2 linked regions of the Homo sapiens genome follow. The protein of the gene in region 2 interacts with the protein of the main gene of each other region in a pairwise test. Each region holds a gene or a part of one and is shown on either strand. Other genes may lie near its edges. The genes, in order: FRMD1 and PIN4.

Region 1 (3,807 bases), on a different chromosome or scaffold from region 2:
TGTCTTTCCAGGGGGATTCTGAACAGGGCTGACCAGAGGGGGCCTCACCCTCCTGTGGTGGAGCCGGGGGCGGGGGTTGGGGGGTGGGGAGGGCAACTCGGAGCCTGGCTGGGAACCCTGAGCCCACCTGTTCCCCACCTGGGCATCCAGGAACCACTGGCTCGCTTCTCCTCTAGCTCCTCTGGGGGATCCTAAGGCTCAGTAGCTCTACAGGAAGTGGGGGAAGCCTGGAGCAGCCCTGCACACACAGCACTAGGCCCCGGGTGGAGGAGGTGGACGAAGGGGACGGGGCAGCCAGTCTGCTGCATGGCAGGTTGCAGGGCCCAGGTGTCCGGGTCCTGCCTACAGTGGCCCGGTGACACTCAGGGCCCGGCCACCCCAGCCCCAGGCAGGACCCCTCCCTCCCCACAGTGAGCCGACTCACTCGGCCCTGAGGCTGAGGCCTCCACCCACGTCCACCTGCCCCAGTGCCCGAGAGCCTTGCTGCTCCCTGACTTGCCCGCTGCGTCTCTGGGGATGTCAGTCGAGGGACCCTCTGATAGGCCTAGGAAGGTCCCCAGGGCCCCTGACAGGGGACCTAGGAGAAGGGGGTGGAGGAGCAGGGCCAGGGCTTCTGGCCCGTGGGGGGGACTCTACCTGGTGCACGGCCTCGGCGCTCTGGCCTCTGGTCCTGACCTGGGTGCAGGGCTCCTGACGAGTGGCTGTGGGAGGAGGCAGCCGTGAGCACAGGTGTCTGGGTTCTGCCCGACATGGCTCCTCCCCAGGGCAGTTCCCTGCACTTCTGGGGCCCTGGTCTCGGACCGGCATCTCCTGAGGCTCACACCGCCCCCTTGCTCTCAGTGCGGTGACTGCTTTTGCTCCATTCCCCGACATCTGATAAAACGGCCCCTTGCTGTGCAGATGCGGGATTAGCACGGTGATTCCCGCTGGGTTACAGGCCACAGAGCTTGCATACATCCTCAGAGATGGAGGCCAACCATCCCTTCCTGGTGGACCAGACACTCCAAGGGCAATGGCGGACACAGTGGCTTAGTGACAGGAATGCCTGGCCCTGGGAGGCCCTAGGTGATGTTTTGTGACCCTGGATGGCCCTGGGTGACTGTAGGTGATGCTGGGCGGTCCTGGGTGACTGAGCCCTGGGGCTGGTCCCACCTGATCTCATCACATCCACCGTCAGGGCCGTGGGGACACTCAGAGACCAGCAGAGCTCACGTCCCCTTTCTGGGGCAATGAGGAAGCTCTTCAGGGCCTCATACACAGGGACTGGGCTGGACGCATCCCTCAGGACAGGGTGCTGCATCCTGGGCCAGGTGCACACACAGTCCTACACACAGGGAATGGGCAGGGTGCATCCCTCAGGACAAGGTGCTGCGTCCTGGGCCAGGTGGACACATGGTCCTAGAACACTCTGAATGGCTCTGTCTTCTCACTCCTACTCAACTGAGTATAAAAAGACATGAGTCTAACCCAGGCTTTCTGATGGGAGGGAAGCTGGTAGGACAGGGCTTCCTAGGAGTAGGGGGCTTCCTAGGAGTGGGGGGCTTCCTAGGAGTCAGAAGGCTTCCAAAGAGTTGGGGGAGTTCCTAGGAGTCCACGGGGCTTCTTAGGAGTGTGGGGGGGGCTTCCTAAGAGTTGGGGGGGTCTCTAGGAGTCCAGGGGGCTTCCTAGGAGTGAGGGGACTTCTTAGGAATGGGGGGCTTCCTGGAAGTGGGGGGCTTCCTAGGAGTGGGGGGTTTCCTAGGAGTGGGGGTCTTCCTATGTGTGGGGATGGGATTCCTGGGAGAGGGAGGGGCTCCCTGGAAGGGGAGCTTCCTAGGAGTTTTGTTGGGGGGCTTCCCGGGATGGGGAGCATTCCTTGGGAGGGGGGTTCTTCCTAGGAGTTGGGGGGGTGCTTCCTAGGGGCCAGGGGCTTCCTAGGAGTGGGAGGGGCTCCTGAGATGGGCTTCCGAGAAAGCTAAAGGACCTGGACTCATCTGCAACCCCAAGAGGATCCCACCTCTCCTGTCTCTGATCCCAGCCTGCAGCTGCCCCTTGGCAGGAACAGGAGACTCGGGCACAGCAGGCTGCAGGCAGCTCCTCCCTGCCATCTCTGTTCTTCCGGCATGTTCTGGCACATTTCCTGGGACTCAGGTCACAAGCAGCCCAGCCCCTCACGTCTGGCCACTGGAGGGCAGGCCAGGGCTTTGCTGCCTCGGTGTCCAGGGTCAGCCAAGCTGGGGCTGGCTGGACCACACTCACTGTCCCTGAGGCCTGGGCATCTCCCTCGGGCCCACCTTGGCTGTCACCACGTGTGCTGGGGTGGCTGCGGCTGGTCCTGGGGCTGGAGGACGGCTCCTTCTCATGGAGCCCGTGGACCTCCAAGGGCACGTCCACAGACATCTCTCTGGATTCCCTGAGCCAGGAGTTGGCCTTGATGCCTGACGTGTAGGAACTGCCGTGGCTGTCGGCGGAGTGGCGTGAGAGGCAGTGGGGGCAGTGCTGGCTGCTGACCCCACTGCCCGGGAAGCTCCTGCTGGCCAGGTCCAGCTCCAGCTCATCGCTGATATAGGACTCCCGGTAGTGCTGCTTCTCTGTGGGGAGTGGGGAGCACAGTGAGGGCGAGCTGGAGAGGGACCAGCCCTGCTGATGCAGGAGGAAGAGCCCGGGAGACAGAAATGCACACCCACAGCCCAGATGAGGACGTGGAACAGGCAGGGAGACCAGGCCTGCGGGTAAACGCTGAGGCCAGGCCTTGTGCTCAGGTGAGGACGTGGAACAGGCAGGGAGACCAGGCCTGTGGTAAACGCTGAGGCGAGGCCTTGTGCTCAAGGTGAGGACGTGGAACAGGGAGGGAGACCAGGCCTGTGGGTAAACGCTGAGGCCAGGTCTTGTGCTCAGGTGAGGATGTGGAACAGGGAGGGAGGCCAGGCCTGTGGGTAAACACTAAGGCCAGGCCTTGTGCTCAGGTGAGGATGTGGAACAGGAAGGGAGACCAGGCCTGTGGGTAAACACTGAGGCCTTGTCGGAACCTGCATTTCTTGCTCTTTGTGGGCACATGATGGGAGGAGAAGTGGAAAACAGACCAGGAAACTGAGAAGTGGAAACCTCAGGTGGCTCCTCAAGCTCCCAGCTTCCCCCAGTCCCATCTATAGAATTCCACTCCAGGCAGAGCTGGGGGCCACCACTTCGCCCTTCGACCTCAGCATCTGGGGGACGTGGGAGTCAGGAGGCCACAACAATAAGAGACAGAAGGCATAGTCCGGCCAGAGCCCAGTGTGCCCAGCCTAGCCCAGAAGGCACAGTCCGGCTGCGGAGCCCAGCATACCCAGCCCAGCCCCACCTTCTGCCTCCTCCCGCTGCCGCAGCTGTTGCAGAGTGGGCCGCACGCGGAGGTGGAGCTGGTGGCTGGCGCGCAGCAGGTGCAGCAGGTGCCTGGACCGCCAGGTGCACCCCGTGTAGTAAACCAGCTTCTGTGCTGCGGGCAGCCCATCCAGCTGGATCTCCAGCTTCTTTCCCTGAGCAAACAGGAGAGAAGTTGCCACTCCACAGGTGGAAAACCACGCTAGCCACAGGAAAGGATGATTTTAAATGTCAGCCATGGCCCCCAGGGGGACGAGGCCCAGGTTTTCACTTCGCAGTGCAGATGGCTGTTGGCGGACACTGTGCGCGGACACTGTGCTCTGCTCCGCCCTTGCTTGAGAGGACACAGCCCTCCTGGCTAGAAAGTGCCCGCAGCAGTGTGAGGGGAGTGGAGGTCTGGGGTGGGACAGGAAGACCTCGGTCTGGCTGTCCAGAGCAAGCCTGCTGTCCAGCAGCCCCCACAGTCAC
Region 2 (4,363 bases):
CCTCTATATTCTGGCTGGTAGTGGCAAGCTAGGACAGCTCTCTCATGGACTGGAGGAAACGCCCTGACATATCATATACAAATTATTGATGGTGGGAGGGATTGTAAGGGGAGAAAAAGTGTGTGGGCACAAATTCAAAAATCATTTATCTTAGGCAAACATTATTAATATGAGCAAGCCATCATTTTATGTGCTTTACAGATATGAACTTGTTTAATTCTCTTAACACCTGATAGGATAATAGTAGGTACTATTATCATCAACTCCATTTCACAGATGATGAAACTGAGCCAAAGAGAGGTGAAGTAACTTCCTCAAGGTCATGGAGCTAGTAGACAGATGTGGAGCAGGGATTTGAAACTGGGCAATCTGGCTCCAGAATCCATGCTTTTACTACACTATGCTGCACCATTATGGAAATTTTGGAAAATACACAGAAACAAACACGATGACCTGTATGCACTAGCACCACTGGCCACATCTTGCTCTATAGCTTTCCTCTCCTTTATATTCATATAACATACAATACATTACATATACTTCTTTTACAAGGAATCATATTCTTTATCTTGGTCTTAAAAACATTTCCCCTATCTGTACACACAGCCTTACAATCGTTATTTTGAATGTTGTATAATATCTTCTTGTGTGGCTAAAACATTATTTAAGCAGTACCCGACTGAGGAGCACTCAGACTGCTTCCAATGTTTCTCCATGACTGAGCTCTGCAAGACGCAAAAAGGTGACAGGCTTTTTTAAAAACTACCTTTTGAACCTAATTAGCTACAACTGCAGAATAAAATTAACAAACGAAAAACTGCCAGGGAGGGCAGCCCTGTGTGTAGGAGGAGACAGCGGAAGTTGGCCGCCACCACAGTACTCCTGCTTCCCTTTGTCTGGCGGCCCCGCGGGATTGGCCAGAGCTGGCGCCGAGGGACTGCAGAGCCACCCACCCCCGTGGCTCCTACTGCGCACGCGTGAAAAAAGCCAGGTTGAGGGGAACGGGGGAGCTTCGGGCGTAGAGTGTGGGGAGTGGGGGATCTGGTGCAAATTAGGGTGCGTGAAAGAAGTCACAAAAAGCGCAGAGGCCAGGCTTCCCGCCCTAATCCGGCCTTTGTCTCCGCCCCTCTGCCTTTGTTTCGGCCCAAGCGTCTTATTGGTCAGACATCTTCAGCCCCATTGGTCCAAGAGCCAAAGGACGGGGTCTGCCCCAAGCTGTGCCTGCTTCCGGAGCCGCAATAAGAACGGTCAATTGAGATGCGGCTTTCAGGCATTTGTTTAGGACATGCCCATGGCGGGGCTTCTAAAGGGGCTTGTACGGCAACTGGAGCGGTTCAGCGTTCAACAACAAGCTTCCAAGATGCCGCCCAAAGGAAAAAGTGGTTCTGGAAAAGCGGGGAAAGGTAGAGCGGCCAGAGCGATCAAGGAGAATGGGGGCGGGTGAGGAGCGAAGGGAGGGAACAGACAGTCCATCTCCGGAGTCCGGGACGGACGCAGCAGGTAGCCAGTGGCCCCACAGTGCTGCCATCGATTACATCTGTAGGAATACATTGGGCTACGGTTCAGGGACCGTCCTAGTGGGTAATGGAATCTGATGGGGATAGTTCCTCGGAGGCGATGACTTAGGGCTGCTATTTCAAGGGGTTATTAGAGCTCTAAAATTGGGTCTTATCAAAAGCCAGCAATAGGAAGTACACATTGGTTATGGTCCTTAAAGTTCACTTTAATGCTTACAGAATGACATGCCCACCATCGGGGAAGGAATCATTCATCCATTGAACAGAAATGTGTCAGGCAGAGTGCTAAGCGCTGAGGATACACAAATAAGACAGAAGGCTGGGCGCGGTGGCTCACGCCTATAATCCCAGCACTTTGGGAGGCCGAGGGAGGATGGATCACGAGGTCAGGAGTTCGAGACCAGCTTGGCCAACATGGCGAAACCCCGTCTCTACTAAAAATACAAAAATTCGCCAGGCGTGGTGGTGGTGCGCGCCCGTAATCCCAGCTACTCGGGAGGCTGAGGCAGGAGAATCGCTTGAACTCGGGAGGCAGAGGTTGCAATGAACCGAGATCGCGCCACTGCACTCCAGCCTGGGCGACAGAGCGAGCCTCTGTCTCAAAAAAAAAAAAGAGATTTTGGCCTTAAGGAGCTCCCGAAGTAGTGAGGAAGATAAAGGCTTAGTGATCATAAAGCACTGTACTAAATGTAGTGTTGAGGGATGTGTATGGGATATAATAGAAATTGAGGGAAGTCCTTCATTTAGCTGGGGAACAGGGAACGGAAGACTTCCTGGAGATGAATTAGGCAGGTCAAGATGTGCATTGAGGGTAGGTTAAAGCATTCCTTACTTGGGGTCCAGCAGCAAAAGCACTGAGGTGAGAAACAGCATGATGTGTGCAGCGTAGTGTTGCTGGAGCAAAAACTCAAGGCAGAATGGCAAGTGGTGAGAATGAAAACAGAAACAAAGACGAGATCATGGAGAGTGCTATATATTCTGCTAAGAAGGACAGTTAAGGATCAGAAAGACCTGTAAGGAGATTGTTGTGGTAGTCTTGGTGAGAGATGATGGTGGACTGACCTAAGGGAGTGGCTGTGGGAACTGAGAAAAGAGAAAAGATTCTGTAAATATTAGGATGTGAAATAGTCAAGACTTGGTGATTTATTGGGTTGGGGAGGGGTGGTGAGGGAGGATCAACGATCATTCTGTTTTCTGGATTGGATTTCTAACCTGTTGCTGGTCCTGCAGGGTAACATCAAGGATACATGAGGAGCGGGGATGAGATTGATGAATTCACTTTCAGATAGATTGGCTTTGAGGTGTCTGTGGGACATCTCAGTGGAGATGTAGTCAGGAAGTGGTTGGATATTTGAGTCTAAAGTTTGAGGGAGAGGTCTAGACTGTACATGTAAGTTTTAGGAGTCGCTAACTTATAGATGGTAGTTGAGCCCATTAGAGTGTATGCAATTATCCATGGAGAGTTTATAGAATGAAAAGAGCAGAGAGCAGAGGATGTGATCCTAGGACAGGCAGAGAAAGAGGCAGACAGATAGAGGGAGTGCAGAATGGTGGCCAGAGGCTGGAGAGACCAGAATGTTTTAAAGAGAGAGGGTATAGTCTATCAAGAACAGCAGATTTGGAAATTAGAGGTGGCCTTGGGTAAAAGTGGTTTCAGTGAAACAGAAGCCAGATTACCGTGACTAGAGAACTGACTGGGAAGTGGTAATTTGGACTTCTTGGAAAGTTTTAATTGAAAAGCATGGAAATGGGATGGTAGATAGAGAAGGACAGAGGATTAAGAGAAAGTTTTATTTTCTTTGCTTCTTTGGAATGGGGAAAACTTGGGAGTGAAGCTGAAGGATCCAGTAAAGTAAAAGAGGTAAAGGTACAGAAGAGTGAGATTTAGGAGAAAATGGAATCCAGGACCTAGGGGGAGCAGGGACACCTTATGCTTGAGGTCATAGGAAAGGAGATGGAGGGGCAGGGACTCAGTAGGCATCTTGAGGAGAGTGGTAAAGGTCTGGAATATCGTAATGGAAGAGGGAATGAAACACAAAAGAAGTGCCTTCAGGGCTAGGAGCCTGACTAAGATCAAAGGCCATGAATTTGTAGACTACATAATCTTCACAGTCTGATTTACCTAGTACTATGCAATTGGCACAATATAGGATTGAAAAGAGCTAGGTGCAGCCTTAAGCCATGGTTGAGGTTTTGTTAGGCAGTTATGATAGGAGGATAGCAACACCAGGGAATTACAAGGGCCAGTGGGAATGCAGTTCAGATGAAGGAACATGGGGTCCAGAGTGGGAAGGGAAAAAGAAGTCTGGTGGCCTAGGTGAATGTAGCAGGACGAAGGGACTGGGGTCAAGGGAGAGGTTCTGTGAAGTTAAAGAGCAAGTATTGTGGGAATGAGACATGAGGAAGCTGGAAGAACAGGAGGTTATAGCCAGAGACTGAACTAGTTCTGAGTGGCACAGTTCCATCGTGTGCCCCCGGGGCAGGTAGCTTGGAGTAGAGAGCATGACATTCGGGAAAGAGACCTAGAACTGAGATTCCCCAAGATAGATGGTGAGGTCACTCAAGGTAATGGCAGGAGTGAGGGTGGAGAGGAAGCCCAAAGCTGATGCCAGAGTCGTCAGGAAATCAAAGGCAGTGAGGTGGCAGTCAGAAGATGACAGCATCCAGCAGGGAAGAGGATGGGATAACTGGAAGGCATCATCATTCAAGAATGGATCTATAGCAAACCCAGTTAGGAGTTTGATTTAATAACACTCCTTTGGCAGTAACATTTTTTTAGGGTTTTGGTAGTCAGTATTTGGGGTTTTCAGTTTAATCAAACATTTATTAAAACACCTTTTGTGTGC

What was found.
Region 1: the proteins of PIN4 (region 2) and FRMD1 interact in a two-hybrid assay, tested with the Homo sapiens proteins (one large-scale study listed by BioGRID and IntAct).

Annotation. Positions count from the first base shown.
Region 1 is NC_000006.12:168,058,488-168,062,294, forward strand, and holds part of FRMD1 (FERM domain-containing protein 1), read right to left. Parts: intron 3,495-3,807; coding exon 3,320-3,494; intron 2,571-3,319; coding exon 2,274-2,570; intron 702-2,273; coding exon 637-701; intron 1-636.
Region 2 is NC_000023.11:72,180,426-72,184,788, forward strand, and holds the start of PIN4 (peptidyl-prolyl cis-trans isomerase NIMA-interacting 4), read left to right. Parts: upstream 1-1,360; coding exon 1,361-1,403; intron 1,404-4,363.